Linked DNA regions of Homo sapiens. The protein of the gene in region 1 purifies or fractionates together with the protein of each later gene. This does not show direct contact. Each region holds a gene or a part of one and is shown in the gene's direction. Other genes may lie near its edges.

Region 1 (3,821 bases):
CAGTTCCCAGGTGAGGACCCAAGCTGGTTTATGGCTGCATTGCACTTAAACCCCTTGCTTCCTGAGTGCAGTGTGGGTGCCACCATCTTGCACAGGCTGGCTCAACTTGAATATCCACCAAGTTGGCAGCCAAAGGAAAGGTGTGTGCATGCGCGTGTGCATACAGAGGAGGTAAAAAGTCATTGACCAGAGGAGTGGGTTTGAAACCATTTGGATCCTGCCGGGTTATATCCAGTTAATTGAAGGAAAACCGGAAAGGGGGATTTGGTTCCTGTGGAAGGCCATCCTGGATTTGAGCTACTAAATTAGTCCACATCTCTCTGAAGTCTGCAACCTAATGGATGCTTGAGCATCCCTGTCCTTTTTTAAAAGAAGCTTTTTTCCTCAGCAAGACATTCAAAACCTGGTCAAGGGGCTGGGCATGGTAGCTCACGCCTGTAATCCCAGTGCTTTGGGAGGCCAAGGCGGGTGGATCACCTGAGGTCGGGAGTTCGAGACCAGCCTGGCTAACAGGGCAAAAACCTGTCTCTACTAAAAATACAAAAACTAGCCGGGTGTGGTGGTGCACACCTGTAGTCCCAGCTATTCGGAAGGCTGAGGCAGGAGAATCACTTGAACTGGGAGGCAGAAGTTGCAATGAGCTGAGATCGCACCACTGCACTCTAGTCTGGGTGACAGAGCGAGATTCTGTCTCAAAACAAACAAACAAACAAACAAAACTGGTCAAGGGTTATATTTTGTTTTCAATGCTATGGTAGCAAAAAAAAAAAATAAATATTTTCCTGTTCAAAAAACTTCTATGTAGCACATGTGTATGCAGGCTGAAGAATTTATGAAGGTTAAACGTTTTCTATCTTCAGACTACCAACTGGTGCTGAAATGAAGTGCGTTTCTAGATAGTATGAAATCTTGATTTACCATTATAAAATAATACTATGAATATAAAATGATTTTTAATTTTGCCTTAAAAATAATGCTGAATTTTAAAATAATAAAACTGATTTTCTGTGTGTTTAATTCTAGGAAGCTCTTGTAGACTGCTACAAACCAACAGAGGTAAGCAAATCACTTTTCCTAAATGCCATGTTTGAACTGGTTTTTATTAAATCAATTTGTCTATTTTTAAAGCAAACCACAATAAGTAGGTTTGAGTGTGTGTATACCAATTAGCAATTATTATCCATGAGTGCATATGTTTGAATAGCTCTAACTTCATTATTTCTAAGCCTAAACATGTCTAGTTCAGAGATACTTAAAATTAATGGAGCAGAGTGTGTTGCTTGTGTTAGATAAAAGCCAAACTTCAAAGGAAATTGTGAAAGGGTTTGGAATCATTTTAGTAAAAGTTTTAGGTTTATAACTGGTTTATATATTCTATTGGTTTATTGGTATGTATTTTTTTTTTTTTTTTTTGAGACGGAGTCTCGCTCTGTTGCGCAGGTTGGAGTGCAGTGGTGTGATCTCGGCTCACTGCAACCTCCGCCTCCTGAGTTCAACCAATTCTCCCGCCTCAGCCTCCTGAGTAGCTGGGATTACAGACGTGCGTCACCACGCCCGGCTAATTTTTGTATTTTTAGTAGAGACGGGGTTTCACCATGTTGGCCAGGCTGGTCTCAAACTCCTGACCTCAGGTATTCACCCGCCTCGGCCTCCCAAAGTGCTGGGATTACAGGTGTGAGCCACCGCACCCGGCCTATCGGTATGTATTTTTTAAAAGCGTAAAGGCAGGTCTGTCTTTCCAAAGAGTTACCTTTATTGGGAAAAAATGTTATGCTTTGTTTAGATATTTATCAAGTGTAATGTATAAACATTATCATAAAAATGAGCATTAATGTGATTAGACTAAAGCATTTCATGTAGACTCTCATGACTGACAGCACATAGTAGAAATTAAGGTTTTAATCAGTTATGAAAATATTAGCAAGAGAAGTACTTTCTTCCTCTGATAAATTGGAGAAATTATAAGATCCGTCAGATGTTTTGAAGTCTGTTTGTAACATCAAAGCAATGGTGATAAGACTTCTGATTTTTGAAGAGGTCTAATTAAAAGGGGGGAGGAAAGCATGCTTTTACAAGTGTCTGATTTCAATGACTTGGTTTGGGACTAGTTACCTATTTGAGCTTTATGCTTCCAACCTCCAGCTTTGATTACATCTTGCAGTCATAGAGATTTTTAATTTTAATTTTAGCCACCAAAATATATACTTTTAGACCAGGCTTGGTGGCCCACACCTGTAATCCCAGGCCAATCACTTGAGTGCAGCAGTTCAAGACCAACCTGGTCAACATGGCGAGATCTCGTCTTTTAAGAAAAAAAAATTGGCCTGTCGCGGTGGCTCATGCCTGTGATCACAGCACTTTGGGGGGCCGAGACGGGTGGATCACGAGGTCAGGAGATCGAGGCCATCCTGGCTAACACGGTGAAACCCCGTCTCTACTAAAAATACAAAAAATTAGCCGGGTGTGGTGGCCGGTGCCTGTAGTCCTAGCTACTCGGGAGGCTGAGGCAGGAGAATGGCGTGAACCTGGGAGGCGGAGCTTGCAGTGAGCCGAGATTGCGCCACTGCACTCCAGCCTGGGCGACAGAGCGAGACTCCGTCTCAGAAAAAAAAAGAAAAAAGAAAACAATATTATATGTATATATTTAAATTAATGTAATACTAATACATCTGAACCCCCCCCCCCAAAAAAAAATTCTGAGGCTTATTTTAAAAAGGTAACAGTGACTTTCTCCACCTTTCAGGCCCTTTTCCTATTTTATATTATATTTATGTATTGTATTTCTATATTTTCATAAGCAACACTTTTGCGCTTTTGGCTGTTTCCCTTCCCTGCTATTTGCTCTTTTCTTTCTTTTTTTCTTTTAGAGACAGGGTCTCATTCTGTCACCCAGGCTGGAGTGCAGTGGTGCAATCATAACTCCCTGCAGCCTCGAACTCCTGTATTCAAGCAACTCTCCCACCTCAGCCTCCTGAGTAACTAGTACTGCAGTCGTGCATTACCACACCCAGCTAAATTATTTTTATTTTTTTATAGAGACTGGGTCTCACTATGTTGCCCAGACTTGTCTTGAACTCCTGGCCTCAAGCTATCCTCCTGCTTCAGCCTCTCAAAGTGCTGGAATTACAGGCATGAGCCACTATGCCTGGCCTACTTATTCTTTTATTCTTAAATATGCATTTACTGTTTTTTTTTCATTTATTGACTTTAGGAGAAAGATGATCACTCTCTCTCTCTCCACACAATTCCTTTTCATCTATACCCTCATCAGTTATTTAACAGTATTTTGTTAAATTAGTAGTCAAGGTTTATAATACTATGATTTAAACAAATGTTTTTCACTGTTAAGCTAACAGTAAATATGATCATGGTTCCTTTTTGTATAGCCCTTTGTTTCTCTTGGAGTTGACAATCCTTGCCTTTATTATTATTATTATTATTATTTTGAGACAGGGTCTCGCTCTGTCACCTAGGCTGGAGTGCAGTGGTACAATCTTGGCTCACCGCAACCTCTGCCCCCCAGGTTCAAGTGATTCTTGTGCTTCAGCCTCCTGAGTAGCTGGGATTACTAAGCCCAGCTAATTTTTGTATTTTTAGTAGAGATGGGGTTTTGCCATGTTGGCCAGGCTGGTCTCAAACTCCTGGCCCCAAGTGATCCACCTGCCTTGGCCTCCCAAAGTGCTGGGATTACAGGCGTGAGTCACTGTGCCCGGCCATAACGCTTGTCTTTGGTTTTGTCTAATACCAATTGGTATTTTTTGTTGAACTCTCCAGTGTGTTTGTCAAACATGTAACATATTTCCTGACTGTTCAATCACATC
Region 2 (3,821 bases), on another chromosome or scaffold:
ATAACTAGTTTTCCATAGAGAGTAGGCTATGTAGACTTGGGTATGAATGACCTACCTCTGTAGAAGTGCAGGTCCCTGATTAGAAAACTTATTTTCTGTGTGATTTATCGAGGAAAGCTTCCAGGAAGAGGTGACTTAGAACAGGGCCTTGAAGATGAGTAGAATCTCTGATACGCAGACCAGTAACTCTGGGAGGAGGCAGGGATGTCCATGCTTTTTACTTGGAGAACTATACCAGAGTGTACAGGTTTGAGCAAGTCTTTCTTAACATTAGTTTTTACTTGCTTGCTCCTAAGGAGGAAAGGTTGCCAACTTGTTCTTAATTTCCTAGATTTATCTCCTGTAACAATGAGAAAGATCAATAGGTAACTGTTTATATTTTATAGTTTACATACCAAAATGTGTAGGCAATGAACTTCTCCAACCACTTCTTTGAATCAAGGCTAAGGAGGGAGCCAGAAGGAAGTATTCAGAACACTGAGTAAACTCCAGAAGAAACTACCATTGCATAAATCTGGTTGGCCCTAGGCAGTCTTATCATTCTTGTGTTTTAGTCTTTGCCAGACTCAAAGTGCCTATATTTCATCCCATGAGTCTGCAAACCTGCTTTGTGGTAACCTGCCTGGCTACTTGCCATTCATTAACTGCTTCTTGACCCATGTTGATTCCCTCTGTCACTTACTCTGAAAAGACCTGTTAGAAATAAGCTTGTGATCTGCTTGAGACTTTGGCAATACTGGTTTAGCCAGAATAGAGAAATCCTTAAGTAGCACAGCAATCCTTTCTGAATCTTCTATTTGTTTCTTCTTTGTTCTCTGTGTCTCTCCCACCTAACATCCCTCTCCAATTTAAGTAATCAAAATAGAAAGAGGGGCCCAGGCAAGGTGGCCCACGCCTATAATCCCAGCACTTTGGGAGGCCAAAGTGGGTGGATTGGTTTAGCCCAGGAGTTGGAGAACAGCCTGGGAAAGATGGCAAAACCCCATCTCTACAAAAAATACAAAAATCAGCTGTGTATTGTGGCATGTGCCTGTAGTCCCAGCTACTTGCGGGGTCTGAGACAGGAGGATCACTTGAGCCTGGGAGGTCGAGGTTACAGTGAGCAGTGACTGGAATGCTACTGCATTCCAGTCTGGGTGACAGAGGGAGACCCTGTCTCAAAAAAAAAAAAAAATTTGAGGGAATATAGGCAGTGCAAGGAAAGGCAGAATATAGGCAGTTCAAGGAAAATTTCCTTGATACAAGTAGTGTCAAATGCATATACATACATGAACATCAAGAAGAAATATTATTATTTAAGTAGTCTTAACATGGAGAAGGAATCTTGTTTTTCAAGAACTGGTCTCTGTGGTCTGCTTAATTTGCAGAAGACAAAGGCATAATTTGAGATAATAAAGAACAAAGATAGGTTATTTTCTCAAAGTATGTATAATTACAGTTAATTAGAGACATTTTTGGAATATTGTAGTATTCTTTGCCTACAAAACTCAAGATCTATTTCTTTTTATGGGGCAGGGGGGCGTAGGTGGGTAGTAAACTTAGTTAATGAAGTAAAAGGCGCTACGACTGAAGAGCTCTTAAATTATGTAATTATGTAAAAAAAGTAAAGCTTTATTAAATATTAATAACATCCGAATGTAGTTACCAGTGAATCCATTAAGGGCAGATGCTAAATTTGCCAGTAATTAAATAGAGAGCAGAGGAAATGGTGTATGCTGTGTTAAACATAGAAGTTGCCATCTCAAGTAACAATCAGTCTTTCAAAACAGATGGACTGAAGAATATGTTCCAGTCACCTTCGCAAATTATTTCTACTTAATTTACATAATAATGTTTAATGCTCCTTTGTCTAAATGCTTAATTTTTTAACATAAGCAGTAAGAGGGAAAATCACTTTATAAAAGGTTGGGAGGGTGAAGGTGGCAGTGTTGAAAATGATTAGGTCTTGCTAGAAAAAATACCTTTATTTTCTTTGAAAAACACTTATAAGAACTATAAGAACTAAGGTAATAGTCAGTGTATTGGTGCTTTGTGTTACAAAGTGTCTTCACATATTTTATCATCTCAGCAATCCTTCACAATGATCTGGGGAGGGCAACTGTATTAGCTTCATTTTATAGATGAGGAAACTGAGGTCCAGAATTGCTGCCAAAGCCACAATCTGTTACATGCAGTGCAGGCTCTTGACTGCATATATCTCTTTACTCTAGAAATTTGCTAACTCATTACAACTTGTTTATATTCCTTTCCCCCAATTCTTGAAAACCTTGGTTTAAAGCCTCAATTGGTGACATGGGCTTCTTATTTCCTTGAGGTTTTTTTGTTTATTCCTTCCTGCAATAGTAGGCTTCTTATATCCGTTTATTACCAGGACTGAACCTTTCACTATAAGGGCTATGAAAATAAGGGGGAAAATGTTCTATAAGCTTTAAGTATGATTTTTTCTAAGCAAATGTCAAATTCTATTCTGCATAATGTAATTGGATAAGGAATTGCTTATTTTAACTCACTTTGAATTGGATTCATTAGTATTTGAATTTGGGTAGTGATTTATAACTTTAAAAGCAGTTCTTGTTTGAAATTCCTAGTGCCCGAAGGAGGAAACAGTGACAGACCTGGAGACTGCAGTTCTCTATCCTTCACACAGGTATGACATCCTGTCATGCTGCTTAAGGAAAGTATTCCTCTCTAATGGAAGGAGGAAACTTGGTATCCTAGAGAAAATAACGATTTGTTTGTGCCATATGTTCTTAAAACCCCTTTTAGGGTTCTACCTCATCTTTAAAATTCTGTTAATGCTTTAATGCTTCAGGAAACTAATTTTATGTTTATTAGACTAATGTTTAAAATCTAGAAACAAATTTTAAAAATTAGTGTTCACTCATAAGAGAAAAAGTACTTATAATAAAATGTAATTACATGGACTACTTAATCAGAAACAATCAGAGGTAAACATGACTGCCATTAGTGCTTTTTAAATTATGGCCTCAAAAGATATGTATCTGGGCTGTGGATGAATGTTTAAAATTATGTAAGAATGGGCCAGGCACAGTGGCTCACGTCTGTAATCCCACCACTTTGGGAGGCTGTGGCGGGTGGATCACCTGAGGTCAGGAATTTGAGACCAGCCTGGCCAACATGGTAAAACCCAGTCTCTACTAAAAATACAAAAAAATTAGCCAGGCTTGGTGGCAGGTGCCTGTAAGTCAAGCAGCTCAGGAGGCTGAGGCAAGAGAATCGCTTGAACCCAGAAGTCGGAGGTTGCAGTGAGCTGAGATTGCGCCACTGCACTCCAGCCTGGGCAACAGAGTGGGACTCTGTCTCAAAAAAAAAAAAAAAAAAAAATTATGTGAGAATGGACAGTAATTTCAAATGTGTTTCAACTGGTAATCTAATTATTTGCAGCCATTGCTTTCTCATATTGTCAGGGAGTGCTTCTCTTACAATTCTGCTTTTTTTGTATTTCAAGATTATGATTTCCTATGGGTGTTAATGACTTTAGATTAGAAGTCTAGTACCATTTCATTTATTCAACATTAGCATCTACCATATGCCAAACAGTGGGTTGGGTACCGGGGACACAAAAATGAACAAAGCACGGTTCCTGCTCTCCAAAAGCTCCTTGTTTAATGCAGAGAGGCTAAGCCTAAATAATAGAGGAGAAACTTGGCAGTTTGAAATATAAATTGAATTTTCCTTATCTGAACAATGCTTGGGACCAGCAATGTTAAAGATTTTGGATTTTTCTGGGTCTTGGAATATTTGAGAAAACATACCATTTGAGCAGCCCTAATCTGGAAATCCAAAATCCAAAATGTTCC

Evidence for each region.
Region 2: the proteins of PPP1R14C (region 1) and HMGCS1 purify together in Homo sapiens (affinity purification with mass spectrometry; one large-scale study listed by BioGRID and IntAct). This does not show direct contact.

What each region holds. Positions count from the first base shown.
Region 1 is NC_000006.12:150,215,801-150,219,621, forward strand, and holds part of PPP1R14C (protein phosphatase 1 regulatory subunit 14C), read left to right. Parts: intron 1-1,023; coding exon 1,024-1,056; intron 1,057-3,821. UniProt on the Homo sapiens protein: Inhibitor of the PP1 regulatory subunit PPP1CA.
Region 2 is NC_000005.10:43,306,592-43,310,412, reverse strand, and holds part of HMGCS1 (hydroxymethylglutaryl-CoA synthase, cytoplasmic), read left to right. Parts: intron 1-2,568; exon of another isoform or gene 2,569-2,588; 5' UTR 2,589-2,647; intron 2,648-3,821. UniProt on the Homo sapiens protein: Catalyzes the condensation of acetyl-CoA with acetoacetyl-CoA to form HMG-CoA, which is converted by HMG-CoA reductase (HMGCR) into mevalonate, a precursor for cholesterol synthesis.